Linked DNA regions of Homo sapiens. The protein of the gene in region 1 purifies or fractionates together with the protein of each later gene. This does not show direct contact. Each region holds a gene or a part of one and is shown on either strand. Other genes may lie near its edges.

Region 1 (7,596 bases):
TACATTGGTGGTTCAGGCATTGGGGAAATATTCCCATTCCAAAAAGGAGAAATTGCCCCAAAGAAAGTGGCAACAGGCTCCATGTAAATCCAAATTCCTGCAGGCAGACATTAAACCTTAGAGCTTAATAATAATCTTTGACTTTGTGTCCCACATCCTGGGCACATTGGTGCAAGGGGTGAGCTCCCAAGGCCGTGGGCAGTTCTGCCTGTGGCTTTGACAGGTGTAGGCCACGTGGCTGCTCTCATAGGTTGGAGATGAGTGCCTGTAGCTTTTCCATGTTGAGGTTGCAAGCTGCTGATGACTCTACACTTCCCTATCACTCCCCTAAGACTCTTCCACACACACACCCCTCAGCCCCACAGCAAAGGCAGGGGGAGATTCACAACACAGGCTTTGAGGCCTGTTTTCTTCCATCTCCTGAAAACACCACCTACCTCATCTTTCCTTTTCCCCAATAGTTTTGAGCTACGTTCTTTTGGATACATGTTATGGTCACATGGGTGAAAATTCAAAATGCATAGCAGAGTCTGTCCCCAGAATCGCCCAGCGTCCATCTAGGCTGCCCTGGGCCTTGGTTTGCTCACCTGGAGGATCTCAGAGGTGCTCCAATATCAATAGTGAGACTGCCCACACCCTCCTCTAGGGCTGTGTGTGATTCCACTGCATGGATGGACTCTGATTGTGTAGCATCTCCCAGTGGAAAATCATGGCACTAATTTTATCGTACTGCAGAAACACTGTAATGAATAATCATAAATCTACTTCCACAAGCAATATCTGAGTGTATAGCATAGTTCCTAAAAGCAAAATATAGCAGTGTTATACGTTCTTTCTAATTTTAATAAAATGAAGTTGTTCTCAACTAAAAGTGGGCAAGTTTACATTCCCAACAGTGAGCTGAGAAGGTGTGTATGGCCCTGCACTTCAGCCTGTATCAGTGTCTGTTCCATCCACCAGTCTCTTTCTGTATCATTCCTCCTTGTCTTGATCACTGTCTTTCTGACCCTCTGTCTCTTTCTCTACAGCATCCACCACCTTGGGGAATGGCTCAGCCCTTCCAGTCCTGGAAAGCCAGTCCCTGTATGTGGTCTGTGCTGTTGACAGCAATCCCCCTGCCAGGCTGAGCTGGACCTGGGGGAGCCCAACCCTGAGCCTCTCACAGCCCTTGAATCCTGGGCTGCTGGAACTGCCTCAAGTGTATCTGAGGGACGAAGGGGAATTCACCTGCAGAGCTCAGAACCCTCCAGGAGTGATGCTGCAGGCGGTCAAGGGGGGCTGGAGCCCCAGCCTGGTCTTCCTGTCCTTTTGTGTCATCTTCATCGTGTGAGCATTGACCCTGGAGAGGAAGGGAGAGCCCTGGGGGAGGGTGGCCTGGGAGCAGAATCCCTGAAGCCGGAGCTGGAAGGACCTGGCTGAGTCAGGAGTATGAAGCAAGGGAGAGAATGAGCATGGGTGCATGGTGAGAATTTCATGAGTGCCCTTGTTTGTGGGGCCACATGTCTGTGACAAACCTCGGGCCCCATTGTCCAGGAAAAAAGAGCCTCTGTTTTCAATGTTGGGGTCTCTGGGACTACAGCCTGCTTGAATTCCTCCCCTGAAAATGGGCTTTTCTTTTCTACCACTTGGCCAGGCTGCAAATTATCCAAACTTTTACACTCTGCTTCCCTTTTAAATACAATTTCCAGCTTTCAGTGATTTCTTTCTTTGCTCACACATGAGCATATGCTGTTAGAAGCAACCAGGCCATGTCTTCAATGCTTTGCTTCTTAGACATTTCTTCCACGAGATACTGAAAATCTTCACTCTTGTGCTCAAAGCTCCACAGATTCCTAGGGCAGGGGCACAATGCAGTGAAGTTCTTTGCTAAGGCATAACAAAATGGACCATCGCTCTGGTTTCCAATAAGTTCCTCATTTCCGTCTGAGACCTCTTCAGCTTGGCCTTCACTGTCCATATCACGACCAATATTTCAGTCATAACTATTCAACCAGTCTCTAGGAAGTTTCAAACTTTCCTTCATCTTTCTGTCTTTTTGTGAGCTCTCCACACTCTTCCAACTTTTGCCTGTTAACCAGTTCCAAAGTTGTTTTCAAATTTTCAGGTGTCTTTGTAGCAATGCCCCACTCCTCTGTACCAATTTTCTGTATTAGTTCATTCTTCCATTGATATAAAGAAATACCTGTGACTGGGTAACTTATAAAGACAAGAGGAATAATCGGCTCGTGGTTCTGCAGGCTGTACAGGAAGCAGGATGTTGACATCTGCTTGGCTTCTGGGGAGTTCCTCAGGAAACTTACAATCATGGCAAAAAACAAAGGGGAAGCCAGCATGTCACATGGCCAGAGTAGCAGGATAGAGCAAATGGGGAGATGCTGCACACAGACAACAAGCAGATCTTGTTAGAACTCACCCACTCTCACAAGAACAGCTCCAAGAAGATGGTGCTAAGCCATTCATGAGAAATCCACCCCCGTGATCCAACCACCTCCCACTACAACCCACCTTCAATATTGAGGCCTATAATTCGGCATGAGATTTGGTGGGGACACAGATCCAAACCATATCAGGCTCTAATCCTATTAGGCTAATCCAAACCACCTATCTAAACACCATGCCTTCTAATACTATCACATGGGGGTTCAAAGGTCAACAAATGAATTTTGAGGAGAGACATGTAGCTGTAGCACTTGTCACTCTGGTCCTTAATATCTTCCTCTCCAAATTATGGAAGTGGGTCTAGAGGGCCCATCAGCTCCTCTGAGTCATATGTGGTTCAAACGTTCTTCCTTTGCAGATTCTCTGTGGCTTCCTCATGTCTCTCCTTCCCATTTTTCTGCTTTTCTTTGCCAACTGGGGACTGTGGGAAAGAGATGGGCCGTGGTCGAGCCCTTCTTCCCATTGAGATGCTGCAACTGTCCTTACGGGAAGAAAGTGACACGGCAAGGATGGGGGCCCAGGAGCAGATTGGTCTGCAGGATGAGATACAAGCTGCAAATGCAGGAATTAGTGGTGTCAGGGAGAGGAGCAGCTATGCATGCCCCAATCCTGCACATTTCCTTTTCAATTATCACAGCCAACTGACTCTACTCCAGGTTATGGGCAATTGGGGACAACATGGGGATGGGAAGATCCATGGAGCTGAGTAAAATAAAACAGATTGTGGTTTTTATGTAAAAATAGTCTTTAGAAAAACCTATGCAAAGCCATAGTATTGAAGGCAGTGCACTCAGATGATAAAACTACATAGAAAAGCAAGGAGACCATTATCATTAAAGTGAGGCTGGGGCATCTTCAGGAGGAACTGCATGTGGCCTATAGGAAGGGGAAACACAGGGCTGAATAAATGAATGCAATTTCTTTCTTCATCTCATGGGAGAAATTTGGCAATTATCTTGTGATGTTCTATTTCTTGAACAGTGATAATTTGGTGAAAATCACTGAGTCATTTTTTTAGGTGGCACTTTTATTTACTTGTATTACATTTCCCCAAAAATCATTGTTTCAAGAAAAGCTGACATGGGTCTAAGGAGGGCGAATCTTGCAGGATTTTCCCCACCTTCCTCCCAGTACATAGCATACAGTTTCAAAAACTCTTCTGCTGAATTCAGGTGCATTTCTTCTCCCATGAAATCCTGTCCATCATTGAGCGTGGACACGCCAGGGCTGGTGTCCTCGCTCCACGTCTCCTGTTCACCTGAAACCCTGGGAGCAGAGCCTGCAGGAACAAAGGGCCAGCAGACCCCTCATGCTCTGGAGTAAGGAGGACTTGTGAGAGAGCAGTGGTGAAGGATCCCATCCTGAACCCAGAGAGCCATGGCCGAGAGAGAAACGCCTGCCCCTTTAGAAATCTGTCCCTTCCCATCCAACATTCCTCCCTTCCAGACCTCACTGTACAACAGTCACAGCCTTAGCTTCTCAGGCCTCCTGTGAACTGGGCTCTTCTCTGTGTCTTTGGTGTGTATCAACACACGGAATCCTCACCTCCACGACCCCGTGTCTCTCTGCTCAGTCCTCCCGAGACTGATTCCCCAACATAGGAGAGAGCGACCACACCCTGCCTGGTACCCCCACTGAAGCTCCTGCCATGGAGAGCTCAGATATCAGGAGCCTCAGTGTCTCCCCACTACACAGTGACTCTTTGGGGACAGTGTCTAGCTCTGCTGTGTTGAACTCCACCTCACGGCCGCTGAGGGAGGAAGGAGAGGTTGCCTGCTCATCCCACCTGCACCCCCATCTCTTATATCCTAGTGTCACCTCTGACCTACAGAGAGACATCCACAGCCTGTACTTCATAGGTCTGGCCACATGGGACTCATTTTCACCTTATGGAAAATATCACCCAAGGGGAAGGGCACTGAGAGGGAGGCAGTGGGCGGGGTGGGCCCTGCATGGGGTTGGAATCTGGGTGAGTCTTTCATCCTCTCTGGCCTCAGGGTCCCCAGGAGTGGACGGGGTAGTGGACGGTGGATCTTCCAGGGGTGACCCGGCCCTGACAGTGTCTGTGTGTGAAGTTCCTCCTGTGAGGTCACCGTTCAGAACCCACCCCCAACTTCCTGTGCGGCTTCCTCGAAATCTTGAGTTCTCAGTTCCTGAGAGAAGAACCCTGAGGAACAGACTTACCTCAGCAACCCTGGCACCTCCAACCCGACACATGCTACTGCTGCTGCTACTGCTGCCACCCCTGCTCTGTGGGAGAGTGGGGGCTAAGGAACAGAAGGATTACCTGCTGACAATGCAGAAGTCCGTGACGGTGCAGGAGGGCCTGTGTGTCTCTGTGCTTTGCTCCTTCTCCTACCCCCAAAATGGCTGGACTGCCTCCGATCCAGTTCATGGCTACTGGTTCCGGGCAGGGGACCATGTAAGCCGGAACATTCCAGTGGCCACAAACAACCCAGCTCGAGCAGTGCAGGAGGAGACTCGGGACCGATTCCACCTCCTTGGGGACCCACAGAACAAGGATTGTACCCTGAGCATCAGAGACACCAGAGAGAGTGATGCAGGGACATACGTCTTTTGTGTAGAGAGAGGAAATATGAAATGGAATTATAAATATGACCAGCTCTCTGTGAATGTGACAGGTAAGGCACGGGCTCCAAGAGAGGCCAAAGGCAAATGTGATGAGGGCTTTAGGGCACGGCTGAGACGGGACACATGTCCTGGGAGGGGGCCGGGGGTGATGGACTCAGGGGAGGAGCTGGACCAGAGCCTGAGCTTCCCCAGGACCGCACCTTGGATGCCCCTCCTGATCCTGCAAGCCCCTCCCCTCACCAGCCCTGACCCACAGGCCTGACATCCTCATCCTGCCTCTGACGCTGGCACTGTGGCATGTGGGGCCTTATGACTCCTTGTTTTGGGGCCTGTCCTAGGCATGGCCGGGGTTTAGCACCATCCCAGGCCTCTCCCCACCAGATGCCAGAAGCACCCACCCCACCCATGCAGCGAGACAATTATCTCCACACATTGTCAAACGTCCTGGGGGGTTAAGTCCTCCCCAGTTGAGAGCCTTAGGTCTACACAACCCCGTGACTCTCTCAGGCCAGGCCAGGGAGGAAGCACTTCCTGGCGCAAACCAAGGGCAGCAGAGGCACCTGAGCCTGGACAGGGAGACTCAGCACACGGCCCCTCCATCTCTCATGCCCCGAGGTCCTCGGAGATCCACATTTAGATGCTCAAAAGACAGGAGGGACCTCCACGATGGTCCAGAGGCCGGGAGGGCAGGACCTACGTGTCTGGTGCAGGCCCTGGTGCTTCAGGGAAGCCCGGAGGTAGGAGGCGGGACACGGTCTCTTCTCCTCCCTGGGTGGGTCTCTAGGGTCTCTGAGCTTTAGGGTTTCCTTCACTCTGTGCAGAGGGAATGAGTTCCTATAGCATGTGGGTTTGCAGTTTCTCTTCCATGCAGGGCTGAGGTCTCCAGCTCCTCTCCAGCCCCCTGTGGGTCCCACAGCCCTGCCCCTCCTCTCCCTCCCCCTTCTCTGCTCACACAGGGAGCCCAGGAAGCCTCTGCCTCAGAGATGCTGCTGCCCCTGCTATGGGCAAATGAAGAGAGGGACAGTGGGGGCTGGGCTGACCCTCGTTTCTCCACAGCGTCCCAGGACCTACTGTCAAGATACAGGCTGGAGGTGCCAGAGTCGGTGACTGTGCAGGAGGGTCTGTGTGTCTCTGTGCCCTGCAGTGTCCTTTACCCCCATTACAACTGGACTGCCTCTAGCCCTGTTTATGGATCCTGGTTCAAGGAAGGGGCCGATATACCATGGGATATTCCAGTGGCCACAAACACCCCAAGTGGAAAAGTGCAAGAGGATACCCACGGTCGATTCCTCCTCCTTGGGGACCCACAGACCAACAACTGCTCCCTGAGCATCAGAGATGCCAGGAAGGGGGATTCAGGGAAGTACTACTTCCAGGTGGAGAGAGGAAGCAGGAAATGGAACTACATATATGACAAGCTCTCTGTGCATGTGACAGGTAAATCTCTGGCTCTAGGACCAGCCAGAGGGGAAGGCCCGAGGGCCGCAGGGTAGGGCTGAGGTGGGACCCCCATCCTGGGAGGGAGTTGGAGGTGAAGCATATCTGGCTCAGGGGAGGAGTAAGACCAGAGCCTGAGCCTCCTCAGCACCACACTTCAGACCCCAACACCCTCATTTTGCCTGTCTCCCTTTCATCACCAGCCCTGACTCACATGCCCACCTTCTCCATCCCGGGGACCCTGGAGTCTGGCCACCCCAGGAACCTGACCTGCTCTGTGCCCTGGGCCTGTGAACAGGGGACGCCCCCCACGATCACCTGGATGGGGGCCTCCGTGTCCTCCCTGGACCCCACTATCACTCGCTCCTCGATGCTCAGCCTCATCCCACAGCCCCAGGACCATGGCACCAGCCTCACCTGTCAGGTGACCTTGCCTGGGGCCGGCGTGACCATGACCAGGGCTGTCCGACTCAACATATCCTGTGAGTTCTGGGCCAGGACGTCTGGGTCTTTGATCGGGATTCCTTGAGGCCAGTTGGATGTGGGACCCAGACTCAAGGATCTGGGTCCTGGAATCTTGGCTGGGAGTTGGGGGTCAGGAGGATGCTGGCTCCACCTTCCCCATTTATGGGGCTCCTGGGGAGACAGGGTCAGTGTCCCCAGTCCTCAAAGTGATGGGAACTCCGTGTCTTTCTGTTCCAGATCCTCCTCAGAACTTGACCATGACTGTCTTCCAAGGAGATGGCACAGGTAAGATGGAGTCCTCTCCCTGGGGCTGGAGGAGCAGAGCCTTCAACTCAGGGGAGAGCCAGGACTCACCCTGGTGACCTGAGACCCTTTTGTGGGTGAGCCCCGGCCCCCCCCTCCCTCAGCCTCAGCCTTTTGGCCACCTGAGCACCTTCTCATCACCCCTTCACTCCCCTTGAACTCCTCCACACACACACCTATTTTGGCCCCACAGCAAGGGTAGAGGGACATTCACACAGCAGCTCAAGGATTTGAGGACTCTTATCTTCCAGCTCCTGAATATTGCCTCATCCTTTTATTTTCACCAATAGTTCTGAGGTATATTCTTTTGGATACATACTATAGTCACATGGGCAAAAATTTATAATGCACAGCAGAGTC
Region 2 (7,961 bases), on another chromosome or scaffold:
CTGTCAATATTTAAATCAACAAACTGGTCAGTCACCTTTGAACCTCCAAACCCTTTCACTCTTGAAATGAGTCCCTTGAATTGAGTGTGGGGACCTGCTATCCTTCCTTCCCTCCTTCAGGCAAGGCCTGGGTTTGCTCCCCTTGTAACTCCTTCCCCAAACACAGCCTAAGGATCCTCCCTGAGCCCCGCCCTGTCCTGTTGGGTCAGGTGGACCTGACTTCTCACCACTCTCAGGAAATGGTGGCCTCTCTCTTCCTGCCATCGGAGGAAATTTGAATCCTCAGCCTTACCTCTCTCAGGCTACTTTTGGCTTTAAAACTGTGGGAAGTGAAAGTGCCCAGCCCTGGAAAAACAAGGCTGGTTCAAAGGTGAAAGCACTTAACCTTTTGGGGCCTCCAGTTTCCCTTATCTACAATTCTGGAGAGGGATGGGGGATATTTTTATAGTTTCCTCCTTCCCTGGGAAGATGTTTAGGGAAAAAAAAATACCAATTGAGACTTTACTGGTTGGGTGTGGTGTCTCATGCTTGTAATCCCAGCACTTTGGGAGGCTGAGGCAGGTGGATCACTTGAGGCCAGCCTGGCCATCATGACAAAACTCCATCTCTACAAAAATATAAAAATTATCTGGGCATGGTGGTGAATGCCTGTAATACCAGCTGCTTGGGAGGCTGAGGCAGGAGAATTGCTTGAACCCGGGAAGCGGAGGTTGCAGTGAGCTGAGATTGTGCCACTGCACTCCAGCCTGGGCAACAGAGCAAGACTCCATGTCAAATAAGTAAATAAATGAGAGAGACAGAGAGAGAGAGAGAGAGTGAGAGAGAGATACTTTACTGTGCCGTTACTCACTGATGCTTCCGTGTCTCCAATACAAACTCCTCAATAGAAAAGATCTGGACATGAAGCTCCCCTATTGGAACAATCAGGGATGACCAAGTCCCATGACCTAAGGTTAGCAAACTTACCAGTAAGGCACAACTCAATGGTTTTTCCTCACATAGGGACTGGGTAACAACAGGAAATTGGAGACATCCTAGCAGGCCCATCATATTATGAACATTTTAATTGTAAACTTCATTTATGAATAGGTAACACCTTTCCATATCTTTACATAGTTCAATATTTTAAGGATATAAAAAGACATACAGTGGGAATGCTGTTTCCTACTCTGAAACCCCACCCCTTCTCTTCCTAGGAAGCAAGCAATATTACTGTTTTCTAACGTATCCTTCCAGAGATATTTTATAGAAAGAAATGTGTAGCCTGGGTGACGTGGCTCATGCCTGTATTACCAAAGTACTACTTTGGGAGGCTGTGGCAGGAGGATTGCTTGAGCCCAGGAGTTCAAGACCAGCCTGGACAGCATAATGAGACCTCATCTGTACAAAAAATAAAAATAAAAAAATCAGCCAGGTGTTATGGCATGCACTTGTAGTCCCAGCTACTTGAGAGGCTGAAGTGGGAGGATGTCTTGAGCCCTGTGGGTTGAGGGTGCAGTGAGCCATGATCTTGTCACTGTGCTCCAGCCTGGGTGACAGAGTGAGACCCTGTCCCTCCCTGCAAAAAATGTGTATATAGATTCTTTTCCCCATTCTTTTGCTTTTTTTCAAAAATAGTCCTATATAGGTACATAAAGAACACCCTCATTGGCTTTTAGGGCTAAATATACTTAACCAGTTTCCTATCAATGAACACTTAGGTTGTTTTCAGTCTCTTACAGTGCTGCAATGAAAAGCCTTGTAAATAAGCATATGGTGAGGCCGGGTGCAGTGGCTCATAACTGTAATCCCAGTACTTTGGGAGGCCAAGGTGTGTGGGTTACTTGAGGTCAGGAGTTTGAGACCAGCCTCGCCAACATGGCGAAATCCCATCTCTACAAAAATACAAAAATTAGCTGGATGTGGTGGTGGGCACCTGTAATCCCAACTGCTCAGGAGGCTGGGGCAGGAGAATCGGTTGAACCCAGGAGGCAGAGGTTGCAGTGAGCTGAAATCGTGCCACTGCACTCCAGCCTGGGCAACAGAACAAGACTCCATCTCAAAAAAAAAAAAAAAAAGGATATAGCCCTTTAAGGTCTCACTCTGTCACCCAGGCTGGAGTGCAGTGGTGTGATCCTGGTTCACTGCAACCTTGAACTCCCAGGCTCAAGCGATCTCCCACCTCAGACTCCTGAGTAGCCAGGACTACCGGCACCATTGCACCTGGATAACTTCTAAATTTTTTGTAGAGATGGGGTCTCACTTTGTTGTCTAGGTCAATCTTGAACTCCTAGGCTCAAGTAATTCTCCTGCCTAGGCCTCCCAAAGTGCTAGGATTATAGGCGTGAGCCACCCCACCATGCCCCATATACATATCTCTCAGGTATTCTTAACTGGGGGTCCAGGGACCCCTTAGAAGTCAGCAGGTATAGAATTTAGGGAGACAATTTTAAGACGCCTGGAAACTTGGAAGGAGAAAAGTTTCTATTTTTATCTATAACTCTCTCATATGATTAATGATATCTTGAAATATCATTTACCCTCACTCCTACTTTGTCATTGTGGTAGGTAGCTATTAGATTTTGCAATAGGTCTGCTTATGTCATATATTAATAGAGAAGCACATAAATTACAGAATACATTTGGTTTTCTAAAAATAGTTTAATACTTGCATTTCTATATAATTGGTTTGCTTTGTAATCTTTTTTGTTTTATTTTTGTTTTTGTTTTTGTTTTGAGACGGAGTCTCCCTCTGTCCCCCAGGCTGGAGTGCAGTGACGCGATCTCGGCTCACTGCAAGCTCCGCCTCCCGGGTTCACGCCATTCTCCTGCCTCAGCCTCCTGAGTAGCTGGGACTACAGGCGCCCGCCACCATGCCCGGCTAATTTTTTTTTTTGTATTTTTTAGTGGAGACAGAGTTTCACCGTGTTAGCCAGGATGGTCTCAATCTCCTGACCTCGTGATCCTCCCGCCTCGGCCTCCCAAAGTGCTGGGATTACAGGCGTGAGCCACCGCGCCCGGCAACTGCAATTTTTTTTTTTTTTGAGACAAGTTTTCATTCTGTCATCCCAGCTGGAATGCAGTGGCCCAATCATAGCTCACTGCAGCCGCCATCTCCTGGACTCAAGTAATCCTCCTGCCTCAGCCCAGAGTAACTGCGACTACAGGTACGCACCACCATGCCTGGCCATTTTAAAATTTTTCTTTGCCCAGGCTGGTCTTGAACTCCTGGCCTCAAGTGATCCTCCTACCTCAGCCTCCCAAAGTACTGGGATTACAGGCATGAGCCACTGTGCCCAGCCTGCTTTGTAATCTTTTTTTTTTTTTTTTTCTTGAGACGGAGTCTCGCTCTGTCGCCCAGGCTGGAGTGCAGTGGCGCAATCTCGGCTCACTGCAACTTCTGCCTCCCGGGTTCACGCTCTTCTCCTGCCTCAGTTTCTTGAGTAGCTGGGACTACAGGCGCCCGCCACCAAGCCCGGCTAATTTTTTGTATTTTTAGTAGAGACTGGGTTTCACCGTGTTAGCCAGGATGGGCTTTGTAATCTTATGTATTTTGTTGGGGGGAGGGGGAAGCTATGCATAACATAAAATTGACCGTTTTAACCATTTTACAATTCTGTAACACTGTATACAATTCAGTGACATTAAGCACATTCACACTGTTGTGATGCCATCAGCACCATCCATCTTCCCAAACTGAAACCCTGTATCCATTAAAAAGTAACTCCCCATTCTTTGTCCCCCAGACCCTGGCAAGCACCATTTAACTTTCTGCCCATGATTTTGACTACTCTGGGTACCTCATATGAGGGGAATCATACAATGTGTGTCCTTCCCTATTTGGCTTATTTCACTTAGCATCATGCCTTCAAGGTTCATTGATGTTGTAGCATGTGTCAGAATTTCACTTCATTTTAAGGCTAGATAATATTCCATTGTATGTTTATAGCACTTTATGTCTATCTTTTCGTCAACCGATGGACATTTGGGTTGCTTCCCTCTTCTGACCATTGTGAATAATGCTATGAATATTGGTATACAAATGTCTCTGCTTTCTCAGTTCTTTTGGGTATATACCCAGAAGTAGAATTGCTAAATCATACGGTAATTGTTTTTTTTAGGAATACGTATTTTTATGCAGGAAAAATATGATTCTGAAATAAGCCTACTAGACTCTTGTTCTACATACTTTATTTTGCATGCCTGTCTCCGCCACTAGATGGGAGACTTGTTGACAAGGACTAACCGGTTCCAGGTGCCCCTCAGGAACCCTCCCAGAGGTGTAGTAAATGCATCCAGCGCCTAGCGGACGCCCTGCGTGCCCGGCAAGGGGTGAGGTGCAGGCGATACAAAGGTGCAGAATGTACCCCAAAAGAACAGCCTAGAGGGGAATTAGGCCGGAGGATGACCGATTAAAATCACCCCAACTCCTGATTGTGCCGCTTCCTAGGTGCATGACCCAGGGCAACTTCCTTTGGCCCCGGCTTCCCCGTCTATAAAATGATTTACATTATCTGCTCAAATTTCCGACAAGAACACACCTCGCCTTTATCACAGAGCGTGGCACATATTAGGAATTCAATAATTTTGTCCCTATCACCTGCGATAGCAAGAGACAGACTTGTCCGCAACCTGCCGGGAGGCAGGTTCTGGGGAGGTTGCTGGGGCGCGGTCGGGCGGCCCTGTCCGGCCCTGGACCACCTCCAGGCTGGTACGGGAGTGCACAGGGAGGGACTGGAGGCTGCACTCCGAGCCCCAGTATGGGCGCTTGGTCGTCTCCGCCCCTGGGCACCGTCCCGCCTCCCTCTGGCTGCAGCGGTCTGCATTCATTCCCCTCAGTGGAGCGGGGGATCCTGGCGGGGCAGCGGCGGTTGGCCCTCCTCTCCGGCGGGCGGCGCTAGCGCGAGCCTGGCCCCGGGCAGCGCTAGGGCCGGGCTCCTCTCGGCGGCGGCGCACCGTCGTCCTGTCGTCCGCGGGGCGGGGACGCGGCGGCGGCGGCGGCGGTGGCGGCTGTGTGTCGCCGGAGCCGAAGCGCGCAGGCCCGTCCCGGTGGCCGGGGAGCGGGCGGGTGGGGGCGCCATGTGGTTCATGTACCTGCTGAGCTGGCTGTCGCTCTTCATCCAGGTGGCCTTCATCACGCTGGCTGTCGGTGAGACTGCACGACCCCGGCCCGCGCGGGCTCCCGCCCCGGCATCGGTGCTCGTTGGGGGTCGCATCGCGGGGGTTTCGGAGCCACTCGGGGGACCACTGCCCGGCGCTCCCGGCCTTCGCCGCCCCAACCCCTTCCCGCCTGATCCTGCCCCTCCTGTCGAGCCTGGCAGCCCGGCCTGACCGTGGCTCCTTCCAGGTGTCACAGAGTCCGCTCCGGCACTGCCCGAGAAAGGGTGACTCGAGTGCCGCCCCCGCGTCTGCGGACCGCTAACCGCTGCGGCTCCCACTCTTCGCGGGCCTGCCGCGCGGAACTTTTCCCCAACGCCTACCGCCGCCTTTGCGCCTCTGGCCCTTCATGCTCCCTGCTCTCTCCACCTTTGACACTTCTCCTCTGGCTGGTTCCCATTCGGCCTCAGTTGAGATGTCATCTTTTCCGGGAAGTCCACAGGGGTTGATGGTCCAGCAGTGCCCTGTCCTTTCCCTAAAGTAGCATTTCTCACACTAAACTCGTCTGTCTCTCCCTACTGTTCCCCTTCCCTTTCCCAAGCTGGGTCAGGGAAGGACCCTTGTCTGTCTTTTTCAGCTGTATTCTCAGCCCAGGGACCTGGCTCATGCCAAGTGCCCAGCAGGTGTTTATTGAATACGTGAAATTCCGTTTTCTGAGCCAGAGGTTATCATTGTACTGTGGCATCAAATGCAGACTTTCGTTGATTTTTATGAGATTTGTCCTTAGTTGCCCTAAGAAAGTTTTACTTCTCCAGACTTGGAAGGGCAACACATGGGATGTTTGGTTTGTTCTTGACCTTCTGGGGTCCATGAAGGGTGGATGGGGACTGGGCTGCAGAGAGAGGGGTGACCAGGATGGTGGGAGTGACCCTGGCTGATAGTCTCCCTGCCTCCCACCCTGCAGCGGCTGGACTCTATTACCTGGCAGAACTGATAGAAGAATACACAGTGGCCACCAGCAGGATCATAAAATACATGATCTGGGTAAGTGGCATCTTTCTCCAGGAGTCCTCCTCACTCTTTTGCCCTGCCTCAAAAGCAGGAAGTGGGGAGAGTTTGGCATGGATGATGAGGCCTGTGTCTCTGCTGTTTCCTGAGCATACACTCTTACCTCCTTGCCCTGAACGCTGTCTTTTGGGTCTGCACTCCTGGGCCCAGATCTTCCCTGGCCGCCTTCCCCAAGTGGCATTGTTTCACTGCAGGCCTTGTGCTCTAGTCCTTAAGGTGACAGCGAAGTGTACTTCTCTGTTGACAAGACCGTAGATTTGACTTTGCTTAGCTCTCTCCCGCTGTCTTTAGCCCTTTGCTCTGCTCACAGCATTTAAAACTTAGAGGAGCCATAAGACAGTTTTGCATATATGTTCATTGCCATCTTTCTAATCGGATCAAGTGATTTGTCCTAAGATCGGCACAGCTTCGCTGCCCTCGCCCTTCCCTGGTCTCATGGGAGGCTTCTCTTACTGAAGACACAGTCCTTGCCACTGATATCAAAGCCATAGGGGTGACTGCTGGTGGACAGACTTCCTTCAGCTGCAGGAAAGGCTGGGGGTAGGGGTGCCATTGGAGAGAAAGCGTCCACAGCCCCTCAAGTCGCCTGGTGTCAGCAGCCATGTGCACTCTGGGCATGGCTGAGGTTGGGAGTTCACAGTGGAGGCAAGACTATAGCCCTCAGCTCTGGTCCAGAGGCCCAGCTTGTGGGTGTTGGCACAGTAATTAGCCCTTCATTCAGCCAACTGTCATTTGCTAAGCACTGACAACTGTAGGTACTTATCAGTAGTGTTTTTCAAACTGTAGGCATGATTCATTATTTGGCTGTATAGTAGGTCACAATCAGCATTTTTTAAAAAAAGGAACATAAATAGAATTGAAATTTGAGCTTTGAATCATATATATGTATATATGTGTTGGGGTCACAGTGTAAAATGTTTTTCTTTTTCTTTTTTTTTTTTTGAGATGGAGTTTCGCTCTTATTACCCAGGCTGGAGTGCAGTGGCACAATCTCAGCTCACCGCAACCTCTGCCTCCTGGGTTCAAGCGATTCTCCTGCCTCAGCCTCCCGAGTAGCTGGGATTATAGGCATGTGCCACCATGCCTGGCTAATTTTGTATTTTTAGTAGAGATGGGGTTTCTCCATGTTGGTCAGGCTGGTCACAAACTCCCAACCTCAGGTGATCTGCCTGCCTTGGCCTCCCAAAGTGTTGGGATTCCAGGCGTGAGCCACCTCGCCTGGCAGATGTTTTTCTTACTGTGGGTTGCTGTCAAAAAGTTTGAGAAATGGGCTGGGTGCGGTGGCTCACACCTGTAATCCCAGCACTTTGGGAGGCCATCAGAAGTTTGAGACCAGCCTGGCCAACATGGCAAAACCCTGTCTCTACTAAAGACACAAAAATTAGCTGGGCGTGGTTGTGCATGCCTGTAGTCCCAACTACTCAGGAGGCTGAGGCAAGAGAATTGCTTGAATCCAGGAGATCGCGCCACTGCACTCCAGCCTGGATGACAGAGTGAGACTCCGTCTCAAAAAAAAAAAAAAAAATGTTGCCTTTTGGGAGCAGAGAACCTAGCTGGGGAGGCCAGACCTGTGAAATGAGGAGATTGAAGCATGAACCTAGTGCTGCCCAGAGCGGGCTGGGGGTTGGTGAGTCCAGGAACGTTGCCTGGAAGAAGCGCCCTGCACTGTCTGCCTCTGGTTGTTTCAGTTCTCCACCGCTGTACTGATTGGCCTCTACGTCTTTGAGCGCTTCCCCACCAGCATGATTGGAGTGGGCCTATTCACCAACCTCGTCTACTTTGGCCTCCTCCAGACCTTCCCCTTCATCATGCTGACC
Region 3 (7,021 bases), on another chromosome or scaffold:
AAAACTGGCGATTTAGGGGACATCAATGCTGAGCAGCTTCCTGGGAGGGAACATCTTAATGAACCTGGTAAGTATTTTATTGTACCTAGTAGAAAAAATTCACCATATTTGGCTTTTGGAACAATTAGAAGAAAAATAAATGTTGTTTTGCTTGTGTTTTTCATTGCTAGATGCTGATTTTTGAGGATTTTTACTATTACATATAATCACTATGAGAAACCATGTTCTTGCCTCTGTCTCACAGAAGACTTTGAATTAAGCTTCTCATAAACAGGAATTAAAAAATAAATCTCCCAACACTTAGATCATTTACAGTAGACACTCAAAAGGCACTCATTTAATACTTTTTGGTTGATTGGATTCTCTGAGAGGGGTTACAAACTGAATATTAAAATGAGTTTAAATACGAAATTAGCCAGGTGTGATGGCATGCGCTTGTAGTCCCAGCTACTCAGGAGGCTGAGGTGGGAGGATGGTTTGAGCCCAGAAGGTTGAGGCTGCGGTGAGCCGACACCACACCATTGCATTCCAGCCTGGGTGACAGAGTGTGACTCTGTCTCAAAAAAAAAAAAAAATGAGTTAAAATCAAGCATTGTCTGTGTAATGAGTTGGGAATCATTCGAGTTTGAAATCAGAAGACCGTAGTCATCTCAAATGAAATCTTGGGTTGGATGTATCTCTTGATTGCATTATTATACCAGTGCTTCTCAAAGCTTGATTCATGGACCTCTGGGGATTCTGAGATCCTTTCAGGATGTCCATGAGGTCAAAACTAATTTTTGTAATACTAGATATTATTTGAATGTTGTACATTGTATTAATGTTTGCACTTATGGTGCAAAAACAATGGTGGGTAAAACCACTGGTTCACTAGTATGTAAATCAAGCCAGGGGCTTTAAACCATTCTGGTAAGTTACTATGTTCTACTTGCATGCAGTTGTAGTTTAAAAAAAAAAAACAATAAAAACAAAAAAAAACAGTTTGCCATTAAGCATGTCCTTGATGAGGTATTAATATTAAGAATTATCAGTTTTATTACATTTTGACACATCTTTTTAAATATTCCGGGTGAGAAAACCTAAAGTAGACATAAAGTAAGTCAAAATACTGTGGTGTCTCAAAGAAAAGAACATGCGCAGTCATTTGAGTTGCAGGCTAAACTACCAGTTTTTTCATGGAGTGCTATTTTTATTTGAAAGAATGACTACGGTTATTCAGGCTTTGGTATTTGGCAGACGTTTTTTGAAAATGAACAAATTGAGCATGTTCCGTCAAGGAAAATAACTGATAATATATGTTGCCAAAGATAAAATTCAAGTGTTTGAGTGAAAATTGAAATGTAGGAAAAATGTATCTCCACCAGGAACTTAGTAGCTTCCCATTTGTATTGATACTAGTGGTAATAACATTAACAAATGCCATTTTTTAATATTGAATAATAAACTGTATGAATATGCAGAAGATCTGCGTAAGTTATTGAACCATTATTTTCCATATGACTAGTATCTGATACCATCTCAGACATGGGTAAAAGATCCATTCAAAGTACAAGATAGACCAGTGGATTTTAGTATAATAGAGCATGAAAAATTCATTGATGTGGTTTCAGATTGTACACTGTAGCGTTTAAAAAACTAGTATTTCTGGCCTATCCACATTTTCTGAAAAGACTTGTCTTCTCTTTTTCAACTACCTACGTGTGTTAGGCTGGATTTTCTTTTTGTAGTCAACCAAAATAACAAATTGAAACAGATTAAGATGGGGTAAGAGGGGAGATTAAAGTATGATGGACTAGGCCAGAACTGGCATATATCACATCCACCCAGATTCCACTGACCATTACTCAGTAATGTGACATCATGTGACTGCCCAATGCAAGGGGACTAGATAATGTAGTCTCTGGCTAGACAACTACAGCTGTATCTAATGGAAGAAGAGCATGATTCTTCGGAGGATGGATAGCTGTCTCCGCCACTGAAGGCCTTGTTGAGAACATGACATTTGTGTAAAGTTGTTAAAGAGGGAAAGGAGCAAATACTGCCAATATCTGTGTGAAGAGCATCATAGGCAGAATAAACAGCTAATACAAAGGCTCTGTGGCTGAAGTTGGGAGATGAGGGGACAGGGGGAATAGTAGAAAGTAAGGTCATGTAGGATAGTGTGGACAATTTATATTTGGTCTTGTACACTACTCAAGAGTTTAGGCTTTTACCAAGTGAGATGAAAAGCATTGATGGGTTTCAAGCAGAAGAGTGTCAGGACCTACTTAAACTTTTGAAAAAATTCCTGAAGTTGCTGGGTGGAATATACACTGTCGGGGGCCAAGAGTACAGGAAAGAGGCCGTTGAATCAACCCAACTGAGAAATGATGGTGGCTTGGACCAAGGGATGATGATGGAGATATTAAGGAGACAGTTTTCTAGATATATTTTAAAGAATGAGCTGATAGCAGTAGCTGAAGGGGGTGCTGAGAAGTAGCCGAAGGAGCGATGGGGTTGAGAGAAAGGTATCAGGCTTTTCTACTTTTCAGTTTGAGCCACTGGATTAATGGAGAGCCATTTACGGAATGAAATGTGTTAGGAAGATATATTCACTAATAAAACTTGTTTTATTTTTGATGGGCCAGTTGCTTCCTAGTAGAATCACGTTTTGTTAACCTTCCTTTGATTAATAATATTTCCTTTTAACTGTTATTTTCTTTTGGCCACATTTTTAAATCTTTTATTTGATACAATTTTATTTTGAAACAAAATCCATATTCTCTTATGTGTAAATTTTAATGTTAAGAATTTTCTATTTAAATGTTTTTCAATTTTACATTGCCATTCTACCTTTGATTCTTAAAATTTTTATTTTAAGGTACTAGAGAAGGACAGACTCGTCTAATCAGAGATGGGGAGAAAGTCGAAGCCTATCAGTGGAGTGTTAGTGAAGGGAGGTGGATAAAAATTGGTGATGTTGTTGGCTCATCTGGTGCTAATCAGCAAACATCTGGAAAAGTTTTATATGAAGGGAAAGTATGTCGACTTCTACTTTCTAATTACTATTGTCTTAAATATTAGGCAAATTAAAGGTTTCCTTTGCCCCATAGTGATAAAATTTCCTTTGTTTTGACATTTAAAAATCCATTACTGTGGGAAACTAATCTTTTTTTTCCCTGTCTTGAAATAGATATTTTAAAAGTATCTTTCCATGTAGTGAGAGCTGCATTTGAGAGACAAATTAGCAATTGTCTGTCATGTAGTAGTTTCTATACAAAAGCTGTTCCCAGCCATTTTGGATTGGGAGCTTCTGTGCCACCTTTCATCAAATGCCTCATGCCTGGCTATATTTAACTTGACAAGACATGAGAGACCCTGCAGGGCAGTGCTTAAAATGCCAGCACGTTTTGGTGAGTAGGGCACAGTAACAGCTGATAATTTTGATCTTGATATCAAACCAGTTGGAAACTCTGCTTTGGCTCTAGAGTTAATATGTAGTTGTAATCCATCCTTCATCCTCACCCCCATCCCCTAATGAAATACTAATTTTGCATCACATGCAGATGGGGGCTGTTAATCTTTATCTGCCAAAAACGAAGATTTTAGCACTGCACTTTGGAGAAAGTTTAAGTACTGTAATTATTAAAGAACACATCTGTGTTATGTTGTATATGTCATTAATATATGTGAACAGATAATAAGCATGTATCTCCTTTTTATATTCCTACTTTAGGAATTTGATTATGTTTTCTCAATTGATGTCAATGAAGGTGGACCATCATATAAATTGCCATATAATACCAGTGATGACCCTTGGTTAACTGCATACAACTTCTTACAGAAGAATGATTTGAATCCTATGTTTCTGGATCAAGTAGCTAAATTTATTATTGATAACACAAAAGGTCAAATGTTGGGACTTGGGAATCCCAGCTTTTCAGATCCATTTACAGGTAAGTTAGTGTTTATATTGAGTCTTATGTAGTTCCATTAGTGTTGATTGATTTTTTTGATGTTTTCAAATAGTCATGTGATTAGCTTTTTCAATAAATACCAATATCTACAGCAGGGTTTTACTTCACATTCATATGTTTAAGCCTCAAATGATGAAGTAATTCTGTATTTTACAGAAATAATAGTAAATTGTTGTCTTTCAAAAATACAATCATACTATAATGGAATTTCAGTTATTTGAAACAAAAATAAACTTGTAAGTTCTTTTATATAGTGTTTCTTTTAAAAAATTATATTTTGGCAAAATTTAGTAAATCTTTTTTTCACATGAGGCTAAATTGGTCAGTCATGCATCAAATCTAAAAGTGAACCCTATGGGTAGTTTTAGTTTATATGTGATGTGTATTCTACACGTTCATTTTAAGTTAATTGTTTGTAACATCGTATACATCGTATCTCATGTTATAAATGCAGTTAGGTGCTCATACCAGTCTGTAAATTGTAATCCTAATGGTACTAGTCCAAATTCTGGCCCCTAGGAAGTGGAATCTAATCCTAGTAATATTAACGTGAGTTCTGGAGACTGGTGTAGGAGGAAATAAAATGCCTCCTCTAAATAACATTTTGAGATAGGCACTTTACTGTTAATGTTTTCCTCTCATCATTTCTGACTCAACATTTTTCAGGTGCTAGTGCTCTTCCTTGTTTTACGAGGACTTTGTATTATATTCCTGTCTCAAATCCTTATGTAGATCCACCTTTTCTTCCCTGACAGCTACTCCACATTCCCAAATTATCTCCTCATTCTACTTCAAAATTTCATTGCCCATTCATAAAATAAAACTAATGTTACCTGCATGTTGATTTAAATAGAATTATCAGGCCAGGTGTGGTGGCTGACGCCTGTAATCCCAGCACTTTGGGAGGCCAAGGCAGGCAGATCACAAGGTCAGGAGTTCAAGACCAGTCTGGCCAACATAGCGAAACCCTGTCTCTACTAAAAAAAAAAAAAAAAAAAAATACAAAAAATTAGCCAGGTGTGATGGATGTGCGCCTGTAATCCCAGCTCCTTGGAAAACTGAGGCAGGAGAATCACGTGAACCTGGGAGGCAGAGGTGGCAGCGAGCCAAGATCGCACCATTGCACTCCAACCTGGGCGATAGTGCAAGATTCCGTCTGAAAAAAATCAAAAAATTTTAAAAAAAATTATCAAAGTAACTTACTACTGAATTACAGATGATCTGATCCTCCAAATACTTGCACTTAAAAAGAAAATAATTGTTTAGTATGTGGATATTTTTGTTGTTGGAATTTCAGACTGTAGTTCAAGAGTGAACACAGATTGTAGTACTGTGTAAGCTATTTTGCATGTGGGATACAGGAAAGGAATTAAAGCAGCTGACTTTGTCTGGAAATCTAGGAAGCACTTGGCTTGTTTTGCCCTTCTGAGACTCTTAACTTTTTCAGCATCCTTACTGTTTTTTGTTTTTTGTTTTTTGTTTTTTTTGTGGACAACCTGATTATTTCCCTAGAGGTACTAACAAAACATAGGCACATACGCCACACATTCGTAAATGTATAAATGGAAGTCTCTTTCCTTTGTAGTTTTCATCCCTTTTCTAATTCTCTTCTCCAGTAGGTTGTAAGCTTCAGTGGATATAAGCAATTTTGTTCCCTTCTGGATCCCCAGCCCTGAGTCCATTGTTTGACACATGAATTAATGAACCTAGAGCTCTAAATGATTAACATTTAGTGCCTGTGGTTTTGATAACAATAACAACAGCAGGAACTCTTGTGAATTTGTATAGGAACAGGGACAGGAATTGATTGTATGTTTATATATTTAGGTCAGATATTACCTGCAATTCTCTTTTGATATTTGAATTAAGTTTTAATATTTAAGTGCTGGGGCTAAGGTATAATAAAGCATTAAAGTTAAGAAAACAAAACTTGGAGAATCATTAAAATTTCAGTTTTTTCCCAGTTATAAGACTTCTGACTATAGTTTCTGTCATTCTATCATGTGAAAGTTTTGCTCTTCTGTTTTTCTCCAAATGTAGGTTCTTCTAAAACAAGCATTGTGCTGTTTGAAAAATTCAGAACTTTGGTGCACTTCTGCCTTTTCTTTATTTTGCATGCACAGGTGGTGGTCGGTATGTTCCGGGCTCTTCGGGATCTTCTAACACACTACCCACAGCAGATCCTTTTACAGGTGGGATGTAGTTTTGATTCATGTATCTTTCTTCACTAAATGTATAGCATCTTGCATCACATGGCTTTACATCTTGGAGATGTCATCCAGTAATTGGTAATTCCCTTATCTGCATTTCCAATTTTGATGGATTTCCTTTTCTTTAACTTCTGATTTTTGCTTTTTCCTGGAGTGGTTGTGTAGATTCCCTCGTGACTTTTAAATAGCATATTATTAGAATTCATTGTTTTCTCCAGGGGTCCTTCCCACCAGGAGAGCAGTATAGTTAAGAATATAGGTTTTAGAGTCAGACAAACCTTGGTTCAAAATTGGGCTCTACCACTTACTTGCTATGAGAAGTTGGCAAGTTACCTAACCTGTCTGAGCCTATTTTTTTTATCTGTGAAATTAGATAATAGGGGAACCCACCAACCAAGACACAGCATGAGTGCTATCACTGGCGAGATGCTACCAATCACGAGCAGAGAAGGAGCCATGTGAGCCCTGATATTGGATGGAGCAGTACAATCAAGAAGTCTCCCCAGGCATATTTTGACTTAACATGGAAGGAGACATTCCACCCAACTACCCAGGAGTAGTCTTCCTAATCTAAGTTATTAATGTCCTTCTTGAAGCCCTTGAAGTGTTGGTGTATCTCTTCAAAATGAATTTATTTACCAAGGTATGCATGCCTCAGCATCAACACTACTGGAAAAAGTGCCAGAGTTGGACTTTAAGGCAGCTGAAGAAGTCTCTATTTTCAGAATGGCTTTTGATATCTTGTATAATGCTGTTGTTGGATCTTCAGACAGAGTTCCTCGACAGTATACTCAGTTTGGGAAGAGATCATAGCGTTTAGGTATCCACTGGCCTTGCAGACTGGTACTGTGAGCT
Region 4 (7,021 bases), on another chromosome or scaffold:
CATTTAAAGTATATCAAGTCATGATATACTTTGAAAAATAAAAACATAAAGAGGACAGAGATGACAGGTGAGGCAGGGGGTGGGGTAGTGAGAGAATGAGTGGGCCGTTTGTAGACTGGATGGTCAAGGAAGACCTTTGACATCTAAATGGAAACCTGAGTGAAGTAAGAGTGCAAGCTGTACAATTAATTTGGGAAAAGAGAGTTCCAGGCCAAGAGAACCATGAGGCTCCAAGGTCATATTGCCCCTGGTATATGGGAACCGAAAGTAGAGGGAGCAATAGGGAAAAGTTTAGGAGATGAAATTGGAGAGGAGGCCAGAAGGTAGGTCCTGCTGGGCCCTGTGGTAAGGACTTTGAACCTCAAATAAAAAGCCAAGAAGGTATAATGTTAAACCATAGATCTGTGAAGGCATTTTTATAAGGAACTAAAGTAACAGTCTAACTCTAAGAACATTAAACATAATTCGGGAGCATATATAGAATATGTACTTCTATCCTAAGTTAATATTTTACTGTGTTTCTTCTCTGTATATAGATTTATGTGGTCCAGGGCATATATGGCTATCATCATTATATGCAGGATCGCATAGATGACAATGGCTGGGGCTGTGCTTATCGATCTCTGCAGACTATCTGCTCTTGGTTCAAACATCAGGGATACACAGAGAGGTCCATTCCAACACACAGAGAAATTCAGCAGGTACAGAACATACCGTTTTAAATTATAATCAACTGTATGTTTCATTAGCCCTTAATATACCATTGATAATTTTTGTTACCTCATGGTGCAGACTTATTTCTGTTTTGAAGAAAAAAAAATTCTTGTACTGGTAATCAGGGAAAATGCCCTAAACATCGTTTTTAATAGCTGTCTTGTGTATGGATGTTTTATATTTTTAAATACATCAAGGCTCTAGTCGATGCCGGGGACAAACCAGCAACATTTGTCGGATCGCGGCAATGGATTGGATCTATTGAGGTGCAGCTGGTACTAAACCAATTGATCGGTATAACGTCAAAAATCCTGTTTGTCAGGTAAGCACACTTTAAGAAATTAGATAAATCATTTCAAAGTGACAGTCTGTCATTTTAATTAAAATAATAGAAAAAATGGTATCTTCCCTTATTTCTTTTTATTCCTTTTCCTTCTTCCTTATTACTCATTGCTTTATAAATCTCATTTTTTAATCTTAATTTTTTTTCATTTTTTTTTGGAAGGCTCTGATTTTATGAATAAACTTTGTGATGTAATGTATACTTGTATTATTTAGGCCTAATTTTAGCCTAGAAGAGGAAAACTTAAAAATATATTAACGTTGAGTAAAGTCATAAAAATTATATTAACAGTTTCTTTATGCTCCAATCTTTTAAAAAGTCTTAAAAGGCAAAACTCAAATGTTGAACTATGACTGACCTTTTTGTTTACCTCCTGCTCTTTTTCTTTCTAAAACGTTAATAATCTAGTAATGTGTTCAAATAATGTATTCATTTTGTCTTTTCCAATGATCTTAACCATAATTCTAATATTAAAATGAGAAAATATAAATTAATTATTTTCTATGACCATAACTAGCTGACTCCTGATTGTATGAGCTTATGTTTTAAAATACATTTTCTAGCCAGGTGCAGTGGCTCACGCCTGTAATCGTAGCACTTTGGGAGGCCGAGGTGGGTGGATCCCCTGAGGTCAGGAGTTTGAGACCAGCCTGGCCAGCAGAGCAAAACCCTGTCTCTACTAAAAATACAAAAAAAATTAGCTGGGTATGGTGGCGCATGCCTGTAATCCCAGCTACTTGGGAGGCTGAGGCAGGAGAATCGCTTGAACCCAGGAGGTGGAGGTTGCAGTGAGCCAAGATCATGCCACTGCACTCCAGCACAGGCAACAAAGCGAGACTCCCTTTCAAAAAAAAAAAACAGAAAAATACATTTTCTAAAAAAAAAAAAAAAAAAAAAGAAAAGCCAAAAAACAAATAAAATACATTTTCTATTGTTAATTACAGTAACATCGTCCTCATTGTATCTTTTATGTGTTAAAGATGTAATTTTATCCTTTCCTCAGTGGTTATGGAAATCAGTGGTAAAAAAATGACAGACTGGCTGGGCACAGTGGCTCACGCCTGTAATCCCAGCACTTTGGGAGGCCAAGGTGGGTGGATCACCTGAGGTTGGCAGTTTGACACCAGCCTGGCCAACATGGTGAAACCCTGTCTCTACTAAAAATATAAAAATGAGCCGGGCATGGTGGCACACGTCTGTAATCCCAGCTACTCAGGAGGCTGAGGAAGGAGAATCGCTTGAACCTGAGAGGCGGAGGTTGCAGTGAGCTGAGATCGCGCCACTCCACTCCAGCCTGGGCAACAGAGCGAGCCTCCATCTCAAAAAATAATAATAATATAAAACAATGACAGACTTAAGTAGTGAAGAACTTTTTTTAAAAGTTACAGTTTTGGTACATTAAAACATACGTTCCTCATTAAGCAAGAGCTAAGGTTTAGCACCACCGGGCACCTTCCCCCAAAAAATACCTCCCTTCATTATCCCATCTATCTTTCTCTTTTCAAAAGTAAAAATTCTGAGATTCCCTAAAAATAGTATGTTGCACTTGAAAACATTTTGCAGTTTTCACATTGATTTCACAGACATGTATTTTAGGCCTAGACTCTCCTCTGTTATGTAGACAGGTCAGCGTTTTGGGTCCCAATTTAAAGATGAGGAAATACAGACTAAGAAGTCTACCAGCAAGAAGGCAAGAACCCAGGACTTAACACTCATTCTTCTGATTAATCCATCCATAAGAACTCCCTGAGCACCAAGGTGATGTTTTAACTTCATGTTAAAAACCCAGGCCTCCTTTATACAGTTCAAGAAGCAGAAAATCAAGGTCTTTTAGCGTCTTATCTAGCACACTTGGTGGCCTTAAGTATTTTGAGTTTATGTTGCTTTAAATTGCACAGTTTAATTGCTCTCAGTTCCCTAACACTTAATTTTTTTACATTTATATATTTTTTCAGTAACACCCGAAAAAACAAGAAAGTAGGAAACATTGTCTCCTAGCTCATTATTTGACCGTAGTGTTGGAAGTAGTTCATCTGATAGAAAATGGTTTCTTTCTAGCCAAGGTTCAGAAATTGCCTCTCAAGGACGGGAACTGGCTAATCATTTCCAAAGTGAAGGAACTCCAGTTATGATCGGTAAGCTGTTTCAGACACTGTTTTTGGTAGAGTGAGTAATATGCAAAACTTATCATTGATATAAATATTTAATGTTGCATAAAATCAGTCATTTAAAAAATTTTGAAATTAACTTTTACACCATATGTATGGATCTCTGGATATTGAAAAAAATTTCTAAGGTGGCTTAAAGGTTACAAAAAAGATTATAATAACCAGAAGAAGTAAAGGCTGAGAAATGGTAGCTATGTTCAAACATTTAAAGAGCTGAGAACAGTATTAAAAAGAGGAAACGGTCACTCAGCTGAGCTTCGTAAGTCATGACTCTGTCATAACTGGGCTGGCTTTGTGAGATTTTGCAATTACTTACCTCTGTGGATTTTATTTGTAAAATAAGAAGATTGGATTAGCTGATCTAAAGATGCTTAATTCTTTGAAGAACAAGACCTGTCCTGTGATGACAGAAGGCAAGGTGAGACTAGTGTGTAAGAAATGGAGGTAGAAGCTGGGCATAGTGGCTCACACCTGTAATCCTAGCACTTCGGGAGGCTGAGGCAGGAGGATAGCTTGCATCCAGGAATTCAAGACCAGCATGGGCCAGACCGCGTCTCTACCAAAAAAAAAAAAACACACAAATTAGCTGGCATGGTAGTGTGAGCCTATAGTGCCAGCTATTCAGGAGACTGAGGTGGGAGGATTGCTTGAGCCCAGGAGGCTGCAGTGAGCCAAGAGATCCACTGCTCTCCAGCCTGGGTTACAAAAGTGAGACACTGTCTCAAAAGAAAAAAAAAAAAAAAAGAAATGGAGGTAGGCTGATGTCAGCAAAATATCAGAAAGAACTTAATGAGTAGGCCGGGCCCAGTAGCTCACGCCTGACTCCTGATTGTATGAGCTTATGTTTTAAAATACATTTTCTAGCCAGGCACAGTGGCTCATGCCTGTAATCCAGCACTTTGGGAGGCTGAGGCGGGCGGATCACTTGAGGCCAAGAGTTCGAGACCAGCCTGGCCAACATGGCAAAACACTGTCTCTACTAAAAATACAAAATTTAGCTGGGTGTGGTGGCACACACCTGTAATCCCAACTACTTGGGATGCTGAAACAGGAGAATCGCTTGAGCTGTGAGGTGGAGGTTGCAGTGAGCCGGGATTGCCCACTGTACTCCAGCCTGGGTAGCAGAGCAAGACTCTGTCTCAAAAAAAAAGACTGGGCACAGTGGCTCACGCCTGTAATCCCAGCACTTTGGGAGGCCAAGGTGGGTCGATCACGAGGTCAGGAGATCGAGACCATCCTGGCTAACAGTGAAACCCCGTCTCTACTAAAAAAAAATACAAAAAATTCGCTGGGTGTGCTGGTGTGCGCCTGTAGTCTCAGCTACTCAGGAGGCTGAGGCAGGAGAATTGCTTGAACCTGGAAGGCAGAGGTTGCAGTGAGCCGAGGTCACGCTATCGCACTCCAGCCTGGGTGACGTGAGACTCTAGCTCAAAAAAAAAAAAAAAAAAAAAAACTTAATGAATGGAGTGCTATATCACTGGAGGTACTCAGAGGCAGCAGGACCATCTGCTGAGAGAGGCACTACAGCAGATTGTTACTCTGTTGGGAGGAGTTTATGGCCCTTTCTAAATCCATTTTAGGTAATTATATGGATGTGAATGTAGAATATAAATTGTATGTGATTATAGATATGATTGTATCTTTTGTGTTAAAGATGTAATTTTATCCTTTCAGAGTATATCTGACATTGTGTCTTTTATAGTGTAGGGTAGTCCATTTTAATGCTATTTTAGATCAGTTAATAAGCAAAGTAATGTTGTTTTTTTTTGTTTTTTTTTTTGAGAGTCTTGCTGTGTCGCCCAGGCTGGAGTGCGGTGGCATGATCTCGGCTCAGTGCAAGCTCCGTCTCCCAGGTTCATGCCATTCTCCTGCCTCAGCAGGAGCTGGGACTACAGGCGCCTGCCACCAAGCCCAGCTATTTTTTTTGTATTTTTTTAGTAGAGACAGGGTTTCACTGCATTAGCCAGGATGGTCTCCATCTCCTGACCTCGTGATCCACCCACCTCCCAAAGTGCTGGGATTACAGGTGTGAGCCACCACGCCCGGCCGTAATCTGTCTATTTAAATTGAATAGGCATTTGACATTTGTTTATGCCTTCATTCGTATTTCCTATTTTTTCTTCTATAGGGGGAGGAGTTTTGGCCCACACAATACTAGGAGTTGCATGGAATGAGATTACAGGGCAGATAAAGTTTCTGATTCTAGATCCACATTATACCGGTGCTGAAGACCTGCAAGTTATTTTGGAAAAGGTAAGTATCCATTTAACACAAATTGAGACAAAAGGCAAAGAAGCTAGAAATGAAGGATCACAAACTGGCTGGTAACAGAAAGACAATAAGCTGAGGGCAGAGATCTCCCTGTGTGGAGGCCTTCTGAGGCTGTTGTAAGTAGCCGTCTCTGTATAGGGAATGTGCAAGAACAAAGCACATTGCAAAAGACAAAATTTAGGTTTATAGAAACTTTCTCAGCTATTAAAATTAATAATAGGACACACACTCATAAATATATTCCTTTGGAGATTTTAGAGCTTTCATAAACAAATGTATCAAAGTTTATCAATGTCTTAAAATAGATGAGCAGAATATATAAACTTTTAAAATTTTAGAATTAACCAAAAGATAGCTAAGCAGTATGCTAGACATTATGGAGGCTTGACTAATTTTAATTCATTTACATATAACCTAATCTCATTCTATAAAGGGTTTGAAGTTGATACATATTTAAGAGTATTCTTACTTACAATAGCAGATAAAGGAGGTAAAAATTTGTTAATTCATAGGCAACTAATTCTCACATATGAAAACTCAGTACCAAGTCTTTAGGAGAAAGTATTGTAAAACATAATTAACTTGAATTTTAAGTAACATTTATATTCGCTGCCAAATACATTGAAATTGCAGAGAATACATAACCACCTTTTAAACTATAAACTAAAGATAAAATGTTTTAATATGTTAAAGAGTTTTAAGCCAGGCGTGGTGGCTCACACCTGTAATCCCAGCACTTTGGGAGGCTGAGGTGGGCAGATCACCTGAGATCAGGAATTCGAGACCAGCCTGGCCAACATGGTGAAACCCCATCTCTACTAAAAATGCAAAAATAAGCCAGGTGTGGTGGTGGGCGCCTATAATCTTGGCTATTTGGGAGGCTGAGGCAGGGGAATCACTTGAACCCGGGAGGCAGAGGTTGCAGTGAGCTGAGATGGCGCCATTGCACCCCAGCCTGGGCAACAGGAGTGAAATTCCAGCTCAAAAAAAAGTTTTTAATGTGTGTAGTCCAACTCTGTTATATCCTCAGTTTACTGAAGTCTTTTGTTTATGATAAGGGTATAAACACTAATAGGATAGAAATGTGTTGTTACAGTTTTAAGTGTTTTTTTTTCCTTTTCTCTTTCACAGCATTTGGAATTTGAAGTCTATAAAAGGTTTTTTGACTGGTGCATGTATCTTACTGAATATAGTAGCAATATTCTTGTTCTGTAGCAAGGTGTTCATTCCATTCAGTATTTATTAAAGTACCTAACAAGTGCCAGGCACTGTCCTAAGCACTAGTATTACACGAGGTTTTTCGGGAGCTAAAACCTTTAGGGTAGGACAGAGAAGGAGAGTGCAAAAAGGACTCTCGAGAAAAAAAAAATGGTATCTCAGGTGCTTCTACGAGGCTGGTGCTGTGGTGGCCCCTGCCTTGTAGAAACAGTGAAAGCCGCACTGCAGGTAGATCAGTGCGTCCAGAGCTAGGCGAAGAGGTGAGGCTGGAAGGACACACCAAGCTCAGTCAGAAAGGGTGGTCTTT

Evidence for each region.
Region 2: the proteins of SIGLEC12 (region 1) and TEX261 purify together in Homo sapiens (affinity purification with mass spectrometry; 2 studies listed by BioGRID and IntAct, with this or other methods). This does not show direct contact.
Region 3: the proteins of SIGLEC12 (region 1) and PLAA purify together in Homo sapiens (affinity purification with mass spectrometry; 2 studies listed by BioGRID and IntAct, with this or other methods). This does not show direct contact.
Region 4: the proteins of SIGLEC12 (region 1) and UFSP2 purify together in Homo sapiens (affinity purification with mass spectrometry; 2 studies listed by BioGRID and IntAct, with this or other methods). This does not show direct contact.

Annotation. Positions count from the first base shown.
Region 1 is NC_000019.10:51,498,792-51,506,387, reverse strand, and holds the start of SIGLEC12 (sialic acid-binding Ig-like lectin 12 isoform a precursor), read left to right. Parts: upstream 1-4,587; 5' UTR 4,588-4,654; coding exon 4,655-5,081; intron 5,082-5,994; exon of another isoform or gene 5,995-6,014; coding exon of another isoform or gene 6,015-6,087; coding exon 6,088-6,468; intron 6,469-6,671; coding exon 6,672-6,950; intron 6,951-7,170; coding exon 7,171-7,218; intron 7,219-7,596. UniProt on the Homo sapiens protein: Putative adhesion molecule that mediates sialic-acid dependent binding to cells. The sialic acid recognition site may be masked by cis interactions with sialic acids on the same cell surface.
Region 2 is NC_000002.12:70,991,855-70,999,815, reverse strand, and holds the start of TEX261 (protein TEX261), read left to right. Parts: upstream 1-4,942; 5' UTR 4,943-5,058; coding exon 5,059-5,128; intron 5,129-6,040; coding exon 6,041-6,120; intron 6,121-7,832; coding exon 7,833-7,961.
Region 3 is NC_000009.12:26,916,224-26,923,244, reverse strand, and holds part of PLAA (phospholipase A-2-activating protein), read left to right. Parts: coding exon 1-67; intron 68-2,860; coding exon 2,861-3,018; intron 3,019-3,715; coding exon 3,716-3,935; intron 3,936-5,996; coding exon of another isoform or gene 5,997-6,079; coding exon 6,080-6,148; intron 6,149-6,539; coding exon of another isoform or gene 6,540-6,628; exon of another isoform or gene 6,629-7,021. UniProt on the Homo sapiens protein: Plays a role in protein ubiquitination, sorting and degradation through its association with VCP. Involved in ubiquitin-mediated membrane proteins trafficking to late endosomes in an ESCRT-dependent manner, and hence plays a role in synaptic vesicle recycling.
Region 4 is NC_000004.12:185,401,951-185,408,971, reverse strand, and holds part of UFSP2 (ufm1-specific protease 2), read left to right. Parts: exon of another isoform or gene 1-536; coding exon 537-701; intron 702-911; coding exon 912-1,036; intron 1,037-3,012; exon of another isoform or gene 3,013-3,115; coding exon 3,116-3,192; intron 3,193-5,353; coding exon 5,354-5,478; intron 5,479-7,021. UniProt on the Homo sapiens protein: Thiol-dependent isopeptidase that specifically cleaves UFM1, a ubiquitin-like modifier protein, from conjugated proteins, such as CD274/PD-L1, CYB5R3, DDRGK1, MRE11, RPL26/uL24, TRIP4 and RPL26/uL24.